Regions from separate parts of the Homo sapiens genome. Here all the other regions are linked to region 1. The links come from fine-mapping of genetic effects on gene expression. A gene starts in region 1. Each other region holds a variant in brackets. All regions are shown on one strand. Distances are from middle to middle. Region 1 holds the start of KSR1 (kinase suppressor of ras 1). Region 2 overlaps KSR1 (kinase suppressor of ras 1). Region 3 overlaps KSR1 (kinase suppressor of ras 1).

The links. PIP is the estimated chance that this variant, and not a neighbour inherited with it, causes the effect.
Region 2: its variant is the best candidate, but not a certain one, in a credible set for the expression of KSR1 in fibroblasts (GTEx, PIP 0.76).
Region 3: its variant is the best candidate, but not a certain one, in a credible set for the expression of KSR1 in monocytes after Pam3CSK4 (Quach 2016, PIP 0.67).

Annotation. Positions count from the first base shown.
Region 1 is chr17:27,454,035-27,459,259 of GRCh38, forward strand. KSR1 (kinase suppressor of ras 1) reads left to right here and starts at 2,414. Exons shown (of 21, transcript NM_001394583.1): 1 at 2,414-2,840. The coding sequence starts at 2,610. RefSeq lists silencers at 1,944-2,703, 3,224-3,273 and an enhancer at 2,079-2,580.
Region 2 is chr17:27,571,788-27,577,012 of GRCh38, forward strand. All of the region lies in intron 2 of KSR1 (kinase suppressor of ras 1), which reads left to right. Among named protein-coding and RNA genes, the nearest start is that of LGALS9, 57 kb to the right of the region's middle. The variant A/G (reference allele first, on the strand shown) is at 2,245.
Region 3 is chr17:27,538,420-27,543,644 of GRCh38, forward strand. All of the region lies in intron 1 of KSR1 (kinase suppressor of ras 1), which reads left to right. It overlaps LOC124903960 (a long non-coding RNA gene), which reads right to left. Exons shown (of 2, transcript XR_007065680.1): 2 at 1,380-5,225. Among named protein-coding and RNA genes, the nearest start is that of KSR1, 85 kb to the left of the region's middle. RefSeq lists enhancers at 1-606, 1,778-2,577, 4,387-4,887, 4,888-5,225. The variant A/G (reference allele first, on the strand shown) is at 2,248.

The sequences.
Region 1 (5,225 bases):
AAAAGGAAAAAAAAAAAAAAGTTAACGTTAGCCGGGCATGGTGGCACACTCCTATAGTCCCAGCTACTTGGGAAGCTGGGGTGGGAGGATCGCCTGAGTCTGGGAGGTCGAGGCTGCACTGAGCCATGATCATGCTACTGTACTCCAGCCTGAGTGACAGAGCAAGACCCTGTTTCAAAAAAAAAAAAATCTTTTGTGAATTGTGTTAGAATGAGTGAGTCGTTCAAGCCTGGCAGCTCTGGCTGCTGGACAGAGGCTCTGAACCAGCCAGGTTGGGTTGTGGATAGTCCCTTGAGATAGTTCTCTGCCCACTGACCTTCCTCTGTGCCTAGGCTTCTCAAAGTATAGACTTGCGACTGGGCTCAGACTAACCACATCAGTACCACCTGAGAACCTGATAGAAATGCAGATTCTCCTGCCCTGTCCTCTGATCTACAAAATTAGAAACTATAGAGGTGAGCTCCATGGTTCTGGGAATTAACAAGCCCTCCAAGTGATTCTGATGCATGTTCAAGTTTGAGAACCACAACTAGTTTCCCTTTCATAATAGTTACTACTTTGCAAGGAGTCGGATGGGGTTAAGGTAACAGGTTGAGAAATTCATAATATCGTGCAGGCGGTCTTTTTATAAGTTGAGTGAGGACTGGATCAATGACTCTCAATGGGAAAGGCCAGGGGTTAGGGAGGAACCTCCTTGCATTTGGAAAATCTCGAGGAGGGGTTAATTTGCAAAAACAAGTTTTAAAGTTATAGTTTTGCTTCCTAGACCTGATTTTTAAAAATTTATTATTTTTTTTAGAGACAGGGTCTTGTCACATTGCCCAGGCTGGTCTCGAACTCCTGGCTTTAAGTGATCCTTCCCCCTTGGCCTCTCAAAAGTGCTGGCATTACAGGCATGAGCCACGGTGCCCAGCCCTTAATTTATTTCGAAGGCTGGTGTAATATAAACATTAAAGGAAGGTGTAATACAAACTGCCATCCATTATTGATTGTTTTAGTGTCTACAAGGTTTGGATCCCACCTCCTGTCCAATTCTCATCCTCAAACACAAAAACAAAACCAAAAAAACAACTGTCTATCTACACACACACACACACCCTCGGCTGGCCTGAGAGGTAAAAGAAACATCCCATAGGACCTGCTGAAAGAGCTCCTGAGGCACGCTGGAGCCTTTCTTGTGTGCCATGCACTGTATCTGGCACTATAAAGAGGGTACAATAGCTAGTGGCTTCTGCAATCAAGCAGCTTACAAGAGAAAATTGAGAGGGGAGACATTTTTTCTGGTTGACAGATGTCGAAAGCATGAAGGTGTGGGAGCTTTGATCAGAGACTTGGTTTTTCAGTTTTGCCAGATAATAGAACGCATGGGGTGAACTAATGGGAGAGGAGGGTGAACAGATGGGCAAGGCTTGATTGCTGGGTTAGGAGGCACAGAAATGCACAGAGGACAAAGGACTACCAGTCCTTGGCAGTACTGTACTGCTCCATGGCCACTACCTGGGTCCAGGGCCACATTCAGATCTGAGGTTAGATAGTAAGAATTGCTAACATTTATCCAGCGACCACATGTGCCAGTAATCAATCTAGGTGCTGTACATGTATTAACTGATTCTTCATAGGAACCCTATTAAAGAGTTATTTGATGAGGAGAGTCGGGCATTCACTGGAAATCGAACGTGCCCAAAGTCTCACCCTAGACCGTGGTGGAGTCAGAATTTGAATCCTGGCCACTTGCTCCGAAGCCACCGACAATTCAGTGTGCTGTCCCCCGTGTCTGGGCTGGCTTGGTGGGCTGGGAATGGCGGGGGAATGGGACACTTATTTTGGCAGGTAAATGTGGTTCAGAAGAAAGCTCTTCGTCTTTCTCCAAGCCTGAGCAATCGTTTTGGCGCAGGCAGTCCAGAGTAGAGCGCTTTGTGAGCCAGCTACAGAAGTGCTGTAAGCCCCTTCCCACTAGATGGCAGCCCCTAAACCCACATACAAATCCTGGAACCTCCCTGGTCCCCATCTTCCAGGGCTGGGCTGCAGCTGAGGAACTGCGGGACGCACACCCGCCGGGCGTCCAGGGGGCGCCGCCCCATCCGGGGGTCGCGGGAAGCTCCTAGGCCGGGTGGGGGACGGAGGCGGACGGGGAGACGCTGCTCCCCCGACTCTCGGCGCCTGGGGGAGGAGCTGGCGCGGAGCAGCTCCACCCGGGGCTCCCGGTTGGGGCCGGCCCTCACCGCCTGCCTCGCCGCGGCCGCCGGGAGGGGAGGGGAGAGGAGGGCAGGGAGGGCGGCGCGGGCGCGGTCCGGGGCCCCGAGGGCGGAGGCCGGCGGCAGGTGCGCGGCGTGGACTACAAGTCCCAGCATGCCCGGCCGCCCTGACCCAGCCCCCGCCGCCGCTTAAAGGCTCCGGGAGCCGCAGCCGTCGGGTCGCCGCGGCTTTCGCTTTGCTGCCGCGGCTGGGAGGGTGGAAGCGGCAGACTCAGCGGCCGGCTCTACCGGCGTCCCGGCTCGGGCAGCGCCGAGGGGCGCTCCTGGTCCAGCTCTCCTGGCTCGGGGGTTCCTTGCCGAGGCGCCCGCGCCCCGGGCTCCCAGCCTCGGCCGCCGCGGCCCCGATGCCGAGGCATGGATAGAGCAGCGCTGCGCGCGGCGGCGATGGGAGAGAAGAAGGAGGGCGGTGGCGGGGGGGATGCGGCGGCCGCGGAGGGAGGCGCAGGGGCCGCGGCCAGCCGGGCGCTGCAGCAGTGCGGGCAGCTCCAGAAGCTCATCGACATCTCCATCGGCAGCCTGCGCGGGCTGCGCACCAAGTGCGCTGTGTCCAACGACCTCACCCAGCAGGAGATACGGACCCTGGAGGTAAGTGGGTCGGGGACCAGGCTGGGCTCGAGGAGCGGGCCCGGACACCTCCCTCCGGGCCCCAGTACTCCTGGCCGAGTTGCATCCTTGAGCCCGCGTCGCCCCCCTTGGAGGCTTCCCCTCCCTCCTGCACTCGCTGATGCGGCAGCCGGAGGACCCGGGACCAGCCCTCATCTTGGGCAGGATTTGTGGGGCGGGTGCGTCGTGGGAACTGGGATGGAGGCTCGAGGGGCCCGTGCGGGGTGGGCTGCGCGCGGACATCCCCTTTCCCCCCTTCTCCGCCCCCACCCCATTTCCAGTTTGCGGGGCCGCAGGACTCGTTGTCCCACCGAGTCACAAGCTGGACTTTTCCCCGTGTGACTGAGCCGAGCACCCGTGGGCCAGGGTGACGGAGGAGGTTCCCCTGAAGCGTGATCGCAGGCCTGCCGTCCCCTGTTCCCCTCACGCCCCAGACGCCGTCCTGTCCCTTCCTTTCCTCTCCTCTCAGGTCTTGTCTGCCGCCTTTTCAAAAAGTGTTGCTGAAACTGCATTTTTGTTATTCAGGCGTTTGGTGCTTTCCTTTCACGTTGCCACGGAGGCTCGCTGCTTAAAATGTATTAATAATTACCCGCTGACTCCCCCTGCTTCCCCCCAAAGATTGGATTTAGGCTTAGGAAGGATTATGCTGGGAAGCAAGCCTTTGGTGGGAAGATGAAACTGTTTAAAGGGTTCTGATGGAGACAGTCTGGAGTGTAAAGAAGAAATAAGATATGCGGGCCTTCCTCTCTCAAATTATAGCTGGGGAAGTATCTGAAGGATTTGGAAAAACCAGCCCGAGGGTTGTTGGGGCACCCTGTCCATACACAAATGAGGGCAACTAGTGGATTCTGAATGTGATTTTGGCCAGGGACGGGGCGGTGAAACGTCAGACCAGTTAATAGCTGCCCCGTCTTGAAGAAGGAACCTCTCACCATCTTGCCCTGCCACATCTGGCCTCCTGCAGGTCTGGGGATGTTTTGTTTTATTAGATCCTCAATTTCTCCTCCCCCAAACCCTCCCCCCGCCCCTTATTGCTAATTGCCTCTGCCAGCTGTCATAAGGCCCTCTGTGATCGCGGTAATTATTACAAGACCAATCCTTCCTCCAGGCATGCCACAAAGCCGAATCCTTGTTTGATTCCAAATGCTCGGGGGTGACTCTCCCTCAGTTTTATTTTCTTAAAAGCTATAAAACCACAGGACATTGGAAGAATACAGTCAGTGCTGGGTATTATTATTTTTTATTACAGTTGGCTAAAGCTGTACTGACCAAGGCTTTGCTTAAAAAACAAACAAAACCCCCTACAACTGGCCTTTCTGCATGCATGCTGCAGTTTTCCAAGTATTGAGAGAAACTGATTTTTTGAACACAGCTGAGTGTGTTTGCTCAGCAAAGTTCAGTTTTTAAGCTGACAACAATAGGGGGCCTGTGAGGCTCAGTTCCGGGAGGAGGGGTCGCTGTCTGGCAGAGTGTGCGTGGTTGGACTTCGGTGTTGCTGGGCTTGGAGAATGCTCTCTGTGTTGGCCTCTGTGGGATTGTCCCCACGTTGCTCTGAAGTGCTCCTGGCTTCCAGAGTGTGTATATAGGAGAACCACTTGCTGTGCATTCTCTGGAATGGCCTTTTGTCCTACCCTAACTTCCGGAGTCCCTCATTTTGATGGCAGTGTGGCGTTCATGACACCCCAGAGCATCCAGCTATTTAAGTGTTGGAGCTGGTTTATTCAGTGGCTTCCCTCCTGAGTGTTTGTTTAGACGATCATCCCTGGCAGCAGAGAACCCATCCAAAGGCCCACAGGGGATCTGCAGCTCCCTGTTCTTCCCACCGTGATGTGGATTCGGGTTCACTCCACTTCCTGAAAAGGCAGGGCCTGGGTTGTTTTGGGGGATGGGAATTTAGACCCCTGGAGTGAGTTCCATGGGGCTGCCACCAGCTAGTTTAGATGAGTCACTTCATCCCGGAGGCCTCAGCCTCCTCACCTGCAAAACAAGGAGGCTGGAGTGGATCTCTGAGGGCTCTGGAAGCTCGAAATTCTCTAGGTTAGAGAAGGAGACTTGGTTGGGTGAAATCAAATGTTTGTGATTGTTTTTATACTACCCTGGTTTAAGAATAACCCTCTTTAAGAATGGTTCTAAAATCCAGATTTACTGAACCCATAACATAGGGGTTAAGTTTATTAGAAGAATCTTTGCCATAGGAGCAGCGTGGTGAATAGGAAGCCCCATGGCTTTCATACTGGGCCTGGGTTCTGTCTGTGTGACCTTAGGCAAGTCCCATGACTTCTGAATCTCAAGCTCTCCTGTCTGTAAAATAGGAACGAGACTGCTCACACCTGCAGCATTTTGTCTGTCAGTCCGTGCTGATACTAC
Region 2 (5,225 bases), 120 kb after region 1:
GTGTTTGTATACGTGGCCGGTACAGCAGCGGTGCCGCCCCTGGCATTTTCCTGGTCCACCTGACTGGCCACAGGGAGTGTGGCGCCTCTCAGTGTCAGCAGGCCCAGGTTTCTAAGTATAGACCCCAGGCAGCCCCGTGGCTGCTAGTAAATCCCTGGATACCATTTGATACCTAACTGGCCCTGAGCTGCCGGCTTACCCAGCATGGCCTGTGACGCCAGCCTCTGCCAGCTGCTGGGGGAGGGGGTAGCACGTTGCCCAAACCCATCCTCACCCTCCACTGGAGAGAATGGAGACCAGCAGTCTCCTGCTAATGACATGACTGGATTGTCACAGACTGGGAGTGACCTCAGCACTCAACTGGCCCTGCTCTCCAATTATTATCAGAAAGAATAACTTAATCCCACCTACTGGAGAACATATCTCCTGGTTTGAGAGAGACAGGCAGAGGCAGGGAGCCAATGATCTCTGATGCTGTCACTCTGCTCCTCATTCCTGCATCCCCACCTGTGTGCACCCATGCTAACCCTGAGACTTGTCGGAGCTGGGACTGGGCATCTCTCAAGATGGATTGGGCATCTCCTATGATGGTCTGGGCATCCATGTCTTCCGTTTTTGGTTTGTAGTTCCATATTTTGTTCTTTAGACAGAAGCTGGGGTGGGCAGTAATTCCTTGGAGGCAGTACGGACTCCCAGCCGGGTTCTCCAGAACTTTGGGGTATGGGCAGAGAGAGGGGCCTTTTGCCCTTGGCTTTGAGACAACTTAGCATCTTCTGGGCACCTCCTGGCAGATGGGATGCCCTCCTGGGGCACTGGAGCCTCTCAGACCTGAGAAGGTTTCAGAGTGGCTTCACCTGCGAGTTCACCTTCAGCAGGTGGCAAAACTGATTCCCTAATTTGTTTTTGGTTTAGAGATGATCCAGGAAAGTTGTGAGTTACTCTGCTTTGAAAACATCTTCCTAAATCAGACTTGGCTGTGCCTGTCACTGTGGGTGGGCGAGTCACATCCATGTGTGAGGTTTCGGGGGTGCTGAGTTGCTTTGGGGCACTGTTGAGTCATGATACTGGGAGATATCAGGGCCCCTCGCAGGGGCCTTCACAGCCACGCGACCGTCCTGGTAGCTTTCCTTTCTTGATTAAGTTAACATTGGGTCTCAGAGTCAGTTGTAGAGTTGGGAGGTGGGGCACTTTGTTTCCAGGGTGGGCCCCTCACTGAGAAAGCCTGGTCCCCTGGAGTACTTGCTACTGGGCCTGCATCCTCCCCCGTTTGCCTACAGAAATAAAGTTTTAGATGTCACTCACTGATCAGATTAACCTTGGAAGGCATCAGATTCTTCCCATGGGGTCTCCGCGCTTAGGCCTGGAAGCCCCATGTTCCTCATGGACATAATTTGTTTTGTTTGCACAGATTTGAATTAGTTATCACCATGTAAAAGCCAGCCATTTAAAAATAAAAATTCAGATTTCTTTAAAACCAGAAGTTCTGGTGCCCCTCCATTGCCTGCCCCTTTCCCCAACACCAAGGGAGGAAAGCGGGGGTTTTCTGTTTAGCATTGCCATTGCTGCCGTTGGGTTTCTTGTTCAGTAAAAAGGCAGAGAAGTGTGTTAAATCAAGTTTAGCCTAGAGCTACCTCCTTAGATATTTTAAGTTCAGCCTAAAGGTTTTTCTGTATATCATGAACTATAACAAGTGGAGGTATAAAAACACTGTAGACTGCACTTGTGCCAATCAAATGTAGCCAACTGTTCGAATCTTGTTCAAATAAGGCAAAGGAGCTGTAACCAATCCAGCTGTTTCTGTACCTCACTTCTATTTTCTGAAAGTAGGTAGAAATTAATTTACTTCGAAAAAAATAATTTCCCCTGAAAGGTAGCTGCTGTATCCCAAGGCTTTGCCAGGTTAACAAGTGGACAGCATGGAATATTTGGAGGAGGTTTGGAATCGTGCGCACGTGGGTTTCAATTCTGCTCAGCCACTTGTTAAGCTGTGAAGTCTCTGAGCCTCAGTAAGATGGACTTAACTCCATCTACTTGCGGAGTTGATTAAAGATAAAATAATGTATACAAAGCCCTAGGCATATTGTTCTGGCAAATAGTTTGTAATAATAAATGTAGTTACTTTGAGAACTTGAAACTTGGTATGGGTGAGGAGGAGATGAATAAAAAGAAAGAAAAAGAATCCCTATTTGCATTATAGTTAGGTTGAAGATTGGGTTTCCTCAGCCTGGCTCCCTCCCCAGCCCC[A/G]TTAAACATCTCTATCATCATCTGGGCAAACTGCTGAGTCATCACAGCCTTGGAGTATGTGGTGGAGAGACAAACTGAGGACACCCTTCCGGACAAGTAGAGGATTGCTTTGTTCAGATAAGGTGAAGGTTGCTCTTGTGCTTACCCTGACGGTATCGCCAAGGTGCTCTTAACAGTCAAATGAGGGCAAAGATATCCAAACCTCATTTCAGTGGAAGACAGGCTAAGGGAAAGAAAGCAAGACATGTTGATTGTATAGAAGCTTCTGCATGGCACCATTTGTCTAATCTGCCTCCCCTGCTGGTGCCGTTCTCATCAGTGGTTCCTGTGACACTTTAGTTTTATCTTCTGGAAGGCAACCAGGGTTTTGGCCAACCAGTGATGAGCTTCTTGGTACAGTTATGTGTCTGGCTTTATTTTGGTGTGATCATGCTAAGTGGTGATGTGATTCTTGCCTACAGCCCTGAAGATTGAAGAATATACTGAAAAGCTACAAAAGCATCTGCCGTCAGCGGGTACAGTAAAAAACAAACAAATACAGAAAGGCAGGCATCTAGCTCCAGCCTTGCTATGGGAGAGAGGGGTATGGGTTGGGCCTCATACCTTCAGGACTCAGCCAGTATCTTCATTAGGGTTAGTTTTGACGCTTGAGACAAGGAATTACAGCATGTAAATGGAATGACAATGAAATTAGTCCTTAAAAGTAAAATTAGACACAACTTGCTAAAAATCAGGATTGGCTTAGATTCTCAAGAACTGTGAGCTTTATAGCAGTCATTTGATGTGGAATGTCTGGCCTTCTCTGTTACAGAAAATCTGGAAAATATAGAAAGGGTTAAAGACAAAAAAAGGTCTGATCTGGTCCCATAGCTCTTTGAACTCTCTCTGCTCTAGTGCGCATCTTACTGCATTGTAGTTACCTGTTTAAATGTCTGTCACTCCTCCCACTGGGCTGTAGGCCACTTGAGACCAGAGGCATGTCCCATTGGTTTTTTATATTTGTCCCAGGTTTGGTATTGTTGCTGGATATAGGGGTCCCATTCTGGATCCCAAAAGAGGGTTCTTGAGTCTTGCACAAAAAAGAATCCTGGGTGAGTCCACAGAATAAAATGAAGGCAAGTTTATTAGAGAAGTGGAGAAACAAAAGAATAGCAACCCCGTAGGCAGAGCAGCCCTGAGGGCTGCTAGTTAGCTATTTTCATGGTTATTTCTTGACCATATGCTAAACTGGGGTAGATTATTTGTGAATTTTCTGGGAAAGGGGCAGGCAATTCCTGGAACTGAGGGCCCCTCCCCCTCTTTAGACCATATAGGGTAACTTCTGGGCATTGCCATGGCATTTGTAGACTGTCATGGTGCCGGTGGGAGTGTCTTTTAGCATGCTAATGCATTATAATGAGCATATAATGAGCAGTGAGGAAGACCAGAGGTCACTTGGGATACCATCTTGGTTTTGGTGGGTTTTGGCTGGCTTCTTTAGCTCATCCTGTTTTATCATGGGGTCTTTGTGACCTGTATCTTGTGACCTTCTCTCTCACCCTATGATTAAGAATGCCTGACTTCCTGGGGATGCAGCACAGCAGGTCTCACCCTCATTTTACCCAGCCCCTATTCAAGATGGAATGGCTCTGGTTCCAGTGCCTCTGACAGTGTCATGTGGCTCAAAGTAGTCAGAGCTGGAGAGGTTTCCTCCCTCCCTGATGAGAGGAAAGGGCACAAGTTTTGAAGTCCACTGAGCCTTGATTCTACCATTCATTCTTTGTATTTTCCATTGCTTCATAACAAATTTAGCAGCTTAACACACCACCCGCTTATCATCTCATGGTTCTCTAGGTGGAGGAATCCACTCAGGCTCTGCTTATATCCCTACTTGGGATCTCACAAGGCTGAGGTCAAGGTGTAGGCCAGGCCTTCCTCTTACCTGGAAGTTCTGGAGAAGAATCCACTTCACGTTCATTCAGGTTATTGGCAGAATCCATTTCCTTGTGGCTGGAGGTCTGAGGTCCTCATTCCCTCAATGGCTGTCAGCCAGGGGCTACTTTTTTTCCCAGAGGCCACCCCCATTCCCCTCCTCCTTCAAAGTCTGCTTTTCACGCTTCAGGTCTCTTGACTTCTCTGTTACCAGCTCAAGAGAACCCTTTGCTTTTAAAGGGCTCTTGTGATTGGATGAAGCCTACTTGGATAATTTCCCTTTTGCTGTATATAGTAATACCCCCTTTTCTGTAGGGGATATGTTCCAGGACCCTCAGTGGATGCCTGAAACCATGGATAGTACTGAATATATATATATATGATGTATACTGTGTTTTTTCCTATACATACATACCTCTGATAAAGTTAGTAAGTTGGGCACAGTAAGAGATTAATAATCAACAATAACAAAATAGAGCAATTATAACAATACACTATAATGAAAGTTACAGGAATGTGGTCTCTCTTCTCTCTCTCAAAATATCTTACTGTACTGTTCTCACCCCTCATCTTGTGATGCTGTGAGATGATAAAGTGCCTATGTGGGGAGAGGTCGTGGCAGTTGATCTGATAACCAAGATAGCTACTAAGTGACAAACAGGCCGGGAGTGGAGACAGTGTGGAGACGCTGGACAAAGGGACAATTCACGTCTCCGGTGGGATGGAGCTGGATGGCGCAAGATTTCATCACATTACTCAGAATGGTGCATAGTTTAAAACTATAAATTGTTTATTTCTGGAATGTTTCTGGCATTTTCCATTTAATAGTTTTAGGCTATGGTTGGCTGCTGGTAACTGAAACTGCAGATAAGAGGGAGACTTCTGTAATGTAACAAGATCAGGAGCAACACCAGGGGACAAAGGTCACAAGACCACCTTAAAATTCTGCCTGCCACTTTCTTCACCGTATGGCCTAGTGACCTCGTGCAGGTGACATAATCTCTCTGAGCCTCTTTCTTCATCTGTCAGGTGGGGCCAGTGAAAAGTTTTGATAGAAATCAGGTGAGGCA
Region 3 (5,225 bases), 84 kb after region 1:
TCTGTCCCATGCTTTCCCAGCAGGTCCCCTAGCAAGCAAGTCCTCATGCCTCATTAGCCAAAACTGTCACAGGTAACCAGCTTCAAGGGAAGCTGAAAGTGGGGACTGAATCATCATGATGGCTGTGCAGGGACCCCATTCCGGATCAATTATGTCACACTCGCTGAAGCCAAGGCTCGTGGGTTGTGATGTGAAGACTGGGCTGCGAGCCACTGACTGAGACCAGTTCATCACTGGGCACAGTGCTACCCTGAACAAAACTGGGTCCTGTGGGCAAGGGAGAAGCTGGGAGCTGATATTAGGTGGAGATGAGCAGTCTGAGCATGGTGCTCCACAGGGTGTGGCGGTTCGGGCGCCCCTCATCCTTCTGGGGGAGTTCACAATGCATTCATTGATCCCTGGTGTCTGGGGCACTCATCTGTCATTGCCCCTTGCCCCTGTCCAGCCCTTTGTCCTTTTCTGTGATGGCCTGAGTTGCTAAGCCAACAGTCACATCCCTGGAAAGAAAGCCCTCTATCTTTCCAGCATTGGGCACAGTCTCCTTCTCATAGTTGGTGCATATAGGTCAGAGTTTAAGGTGCCTTGCCTTCCCCATCCCTCCCTTCCAGAGTCTCCCTAGGGAACAGGCCTTAAGGATAGGTAAGGGGTTTGGCCCATTGGCAGAAATCTACTTTTGCCATTAGGTGCAGCCTCTGCCTTTTTCACTAGGCCCCTGCTTGGTAATTCACACCCAGGTGCCTTTCAGTTGGCAATGTCAGGAATACTCCAGGATTACCTGTTGTGATTGAGGGGTTGAGCTGAGGGGGTAAACTAGTTCGTGGCTGTGCCCTGTGGGCCTGGTGACCTTCAGACAAACACATGGAGTGTGTGTTTGAACTGGGACACAGGCCGTGTTGATGAAGTATCTGGTCTGTGAGCAACACCACACCTGTGGCTCCTGACACCTGGGCCAGCACTTCCCTCAGCCTCCCAGCAGAAGCACCGAGCAGCAGGGCTGCTGTGTCATGGACGCTTAGACCTGCTGTCTGTTGCTTTGCCTTTCCTAGCCCTCGGTCAGGTGTCTGTGCGGACACATCTGTTCCCCCAACTTGTGTGGGTTCCTGAAAATTATGGACCCCTGCCGCTTACGACCGTTGTCCTTGGAGTCCAACGGTGCCGGGCATTGGGAAGAGGTTTGGTTGTTGAATGACTGGATGATGGTCAGAAGTCCTTTGTTGCCGTTATTCAATTGCTTCAGGCACAGGGGAGTTAGGGGGTAAAGTGGGTGTCTTTCTTTCTCATGATTTAGTCCTGTTGGTCCCCACAGCCCCTAAGGACTGCTGGTACTAACAACACATGAGATATTGGGGGGTTACATCAATTGAGGCAGGAAGGAAAACTTGAAAGGCAGATCAAGACAGATCATTTACTGACTTTTCAAATAATTGCTTTCTGAAGAGCAGTGTTTTGACTCACCTTGGCTTTGCAGGTGGGAGCTGTATTAGGCTGTTAGGTCAGGGAAATGCCTTCCTCTTTGGTTCTGCTGCATCTCACAACCTCCGTGGCACATAAAATGGCCTAGCAGTTGTTGCTGAGAAAACTCGGGCCCTTGGCCATTCACTCTGGCCCAGCTCAAGCTTTGCATTTCCCAGGAAGCATCATGGGTGCTTTTAAACCATAGTTGACCTCATAGTCTTCTTTCCCTGACTGCTCATGCTTAGTACTGGAGCAGTGGGAACAGGTGATTTATGTGATTTATCTAAGGTGGGTGCTTAGTTGCACAGAGGAGCTAACTCATCAGTGCTTCCATACAGGGTCTCCTGCACCCACTGCTGCACCAGCCAAAGGCAGTCAGTCATACTCTTAGACAAGTGAGCTCGTTTTGTCTCAGCCTGGGGTTGAATCTCCCATCTACAGTCTGTTGTCAGGTCCTCAGACTTTGCATTCCCAGTGGAGCATAGGGAAGGGTAGGAGGCCCTGAGCTCCCAGCTGTGGCCGTTCTCACCCCTGGCCTCCTTGGGAATATCTCCACTTGTGGTCTGGGTTAGACTTGTTTGTTTGTGTTTGAAGTTCCCCGACTCTGAGTTTGACGTCAAGGCAGGATTGCTAGTGGGAGGCTTGGCGGGGAGGTTGTCTCTACACAAATGTAAAAGCCTGGCAGCTTCCCCAGGAGAGTGCGGGTATGGGCCGGGCCGGGAGAGGGCTGGCTGTTGCGAAATGCCCAGCTCAAGGATTGAGGTCACTTGTACTTTCTCCTCTCCTTGCCCC[A/G]CTTTCCCTGTGTGCCTCTCCTGCTCTGTCCCATGCCCATGAATGTCAGCCCCCGTGGGCGCCCTTGAGGGCTGGGCAGTGCTGGGAGCCAAGGGGCTGCCTCTGGTCCCCTCGGAGCTGGGTGCTATGGTCGCTGCGTGCCTGTGCGTGGAACTGTCAGCTGCATCACAACCTCCAGAGGCCTCCTTACATTCTCAGAAATCATTTTGCAACAAGTTGGCCATGGCAGCCAGGCTAGACTGCTTAGCTGGCTGGGTTGGTGGGAAGTCCCCAGAAATGCACTCCAGCTTTGGGAAGGAAGTGGAAGATGTAAGGGGAGCTTCCCCGAGGCATGGACAGAATGGGTCAATAGTGGAGGAGGAGCAGCAGCTTCAGGGACCACTGGAATGAAGGCTGGAGTAAGTTGCCAGGGCTTTGGTGGCATCCTGAAGTTCGGGATGGTATAGTCAGGGACTTGGCAGGAGCAAAGACTGCTGTGGGCACCACGTAAGAGTCTGGTGCTGCCTACTGAGGAGAAAGGAGTCAGGGTCTTGTGGGTGCTGGTGAGCTGGAAGCTGGTCCACAACTGCACCTGCCACAGGAGGACTAAATAAAACAAGAGGCAAGTGATGGACGAATGGAGTGGCTGTCCAGTTACTTCGTGTCACTCTGTAAAGCATACTAGGATCTTCTTAAAAGGGATGGCCTCAGGTTATAGGCAGCATGATGGCTAGTTTTAATGAATTTAATGCTGGCTTAGAGCCAGGGGTGGGGTACAGCCCAGAGGGTAGGTTATTGCAAGTCAGGACCAGAGGTGGTGGCCCAGTTGGGTGGCTGGATACATTTAGAGGGTGTGGGCAAGCCTGTGGCTCTTATTCACAGGATTCACTGCCTGGAACAGTCTAGGCGTGGCTGGATTTTGGGCTTTGGATCGCAAAAGAGGTAGACCCTGCCCACTGCCATCCTGCTTGTACCAGTCAAGACAGCTTAGGGTGTGGGTTGCAGGAGTCATTATTTTGAGAGGTGCATAGAGAGCATTAGATTGAGGTTGGAATCCCTTCTTTAACCACAGGATTCAAGAAAGTTACAAAGGCTGGTGCCTTGGTTTCTTCATTGTAAGATGGGAATGATGAAGTACACCTTTAAGTCTTGTGGGTTTCACATGAGAGGTTTCATGATTTGTGAGTGACGGCAAAGGATGAGCAGTGACTTGTCATTTGGCTGAGGCTGGACTCGATGGCAGGCATGCAGGTGAGCATCCCTGAGCCAGTGAGTGAGCCCAGTGTGCTGTCCAGCACCCACATCCCGATGTAGCTTTGTTTTTCTTTACTCAATGTTGAATACACAGTACATCCCATCAGAAGTCTGGAAGGGTCTGTAGTATTTTCAGTTACACATGATTGTATTTTGTGGAGGGAATGATGTGCTTTAGGGACATTGCCAGCTTTGGGTTTGTGTGTGAAGATTGGGACATCAGTCACCCTTGTGCTATCAGGGATCTACTCTAATTCCTAGCCTCTGAAATTTTCACTGACAATCCAGGTAGAGGAAGTGATATGGTACCATACATAAGGAAAAGATTGTTAACACTACTAGGTTGACAAATGAGTATTGACATGATTCTGTAACTGAGGGAGCCTGCTACTATACATGGGAAACTGGTGTCCATGTTAGCCTGTGCCTTGGATTCATTTACTCATTTATATGTTAACATCTGTGACATCTGTCACAACAGATTTAACCCCCTGCCCTGCTTCTGAGACATGAAGATCTGGGCCACTGAGAGGGTCCTGTGGCAGCCAACGACCAAAGTCAGGGTTAGGGTGACAACCTATAATAGGCCTTGGCATCTGGCTGCTAACATAGCCAAGATCATGGGTTTGAGAGTTGCCCACAGAAGAGATCTCCCCATCTCAGGCCCTGCAATTTTAGGGTGGAGCTGACTTTGTTTGCAAAGTCAGTCGTCTGGAAAGAGGTGTTTTTTGCAAAGGTGCAAAAAAGCCTGGGTGGGGTATAATCCAAACGGCACCTGCCAAAAGTCTTCATGCTCCTCCTTTTCGAGGTCATTCTGCAGGCTGAGCAGGAGTAACACTAACAGAGTTCTATTTAGTGAGCACTTTATATGTTCTGGACATTGGACTAAACACTTTGCATACATGAGTCTGCAGCAAATTCTCAGCAGTGCTATGGGGCATGTATTATATTTTCTCTGCTTTACAGAGAAGGAGACTAAGATGATATGATCTAGATCCTGCCACACAGCTGATGTGTGATGGTGCGAGGGGTAGAGCCTCCTGGCTGCCAAACCCAAGCTTCTCGCAGAGGAGATGGGACCACTAACTAATGGTAGGCATGACCTCTGACCAGTCAGAACAGGTGCTGGTGGTAAACAGGAGGCGTGGCTCATCTGCCTGTCACTGCTGCACTTCCAGCCAGTCCAGCACAATGGCTGGCCTGTCCCTGTCCACACACCCTGTGGAAGCCGCCCGTGGGAGCTCTCTGTCTAGACTGCCATTTTAGCTGGTGCTAAATGGTCTTGCTTTTAGAGGCAAGGCAGCTATTGCTCCAGCTCCACTGTGGCAGCCTCCAAGGGATGGTTGGTTCTGTGGCCACAGAGGAACCCAGCCTCCCAAATCAGACTGGCCCATGGGTAGGTTGCCTGGGACAGCCATGACACACCATGGAGGATGGGCCCAGGACCCATGCTATGGGGCACCAGCTATGGAGAGGCAGGTTGGGGCGCAGTGTAAAGGAAGGATGACAAGGAAGGGACCTGCAGGGTAGGGGTGTGAGGCCTCCATGTTCCTGGGGATCCCTGCAGTTCTGGGGGCTGTGTCCTTTACCTGAAGAAGTCTCTTTCCTCAGTGGCACGTGCTTCTCCTTGGCACAGTATCTGCTCAACCAGGCCCGTGCTCTCCAGGGATGTCTGACAAGCCTCACCACCATCCAAGTGATACTCGTGGAGCCTCCATTTGGGAGGCCTGTGCCAGAGTCATACC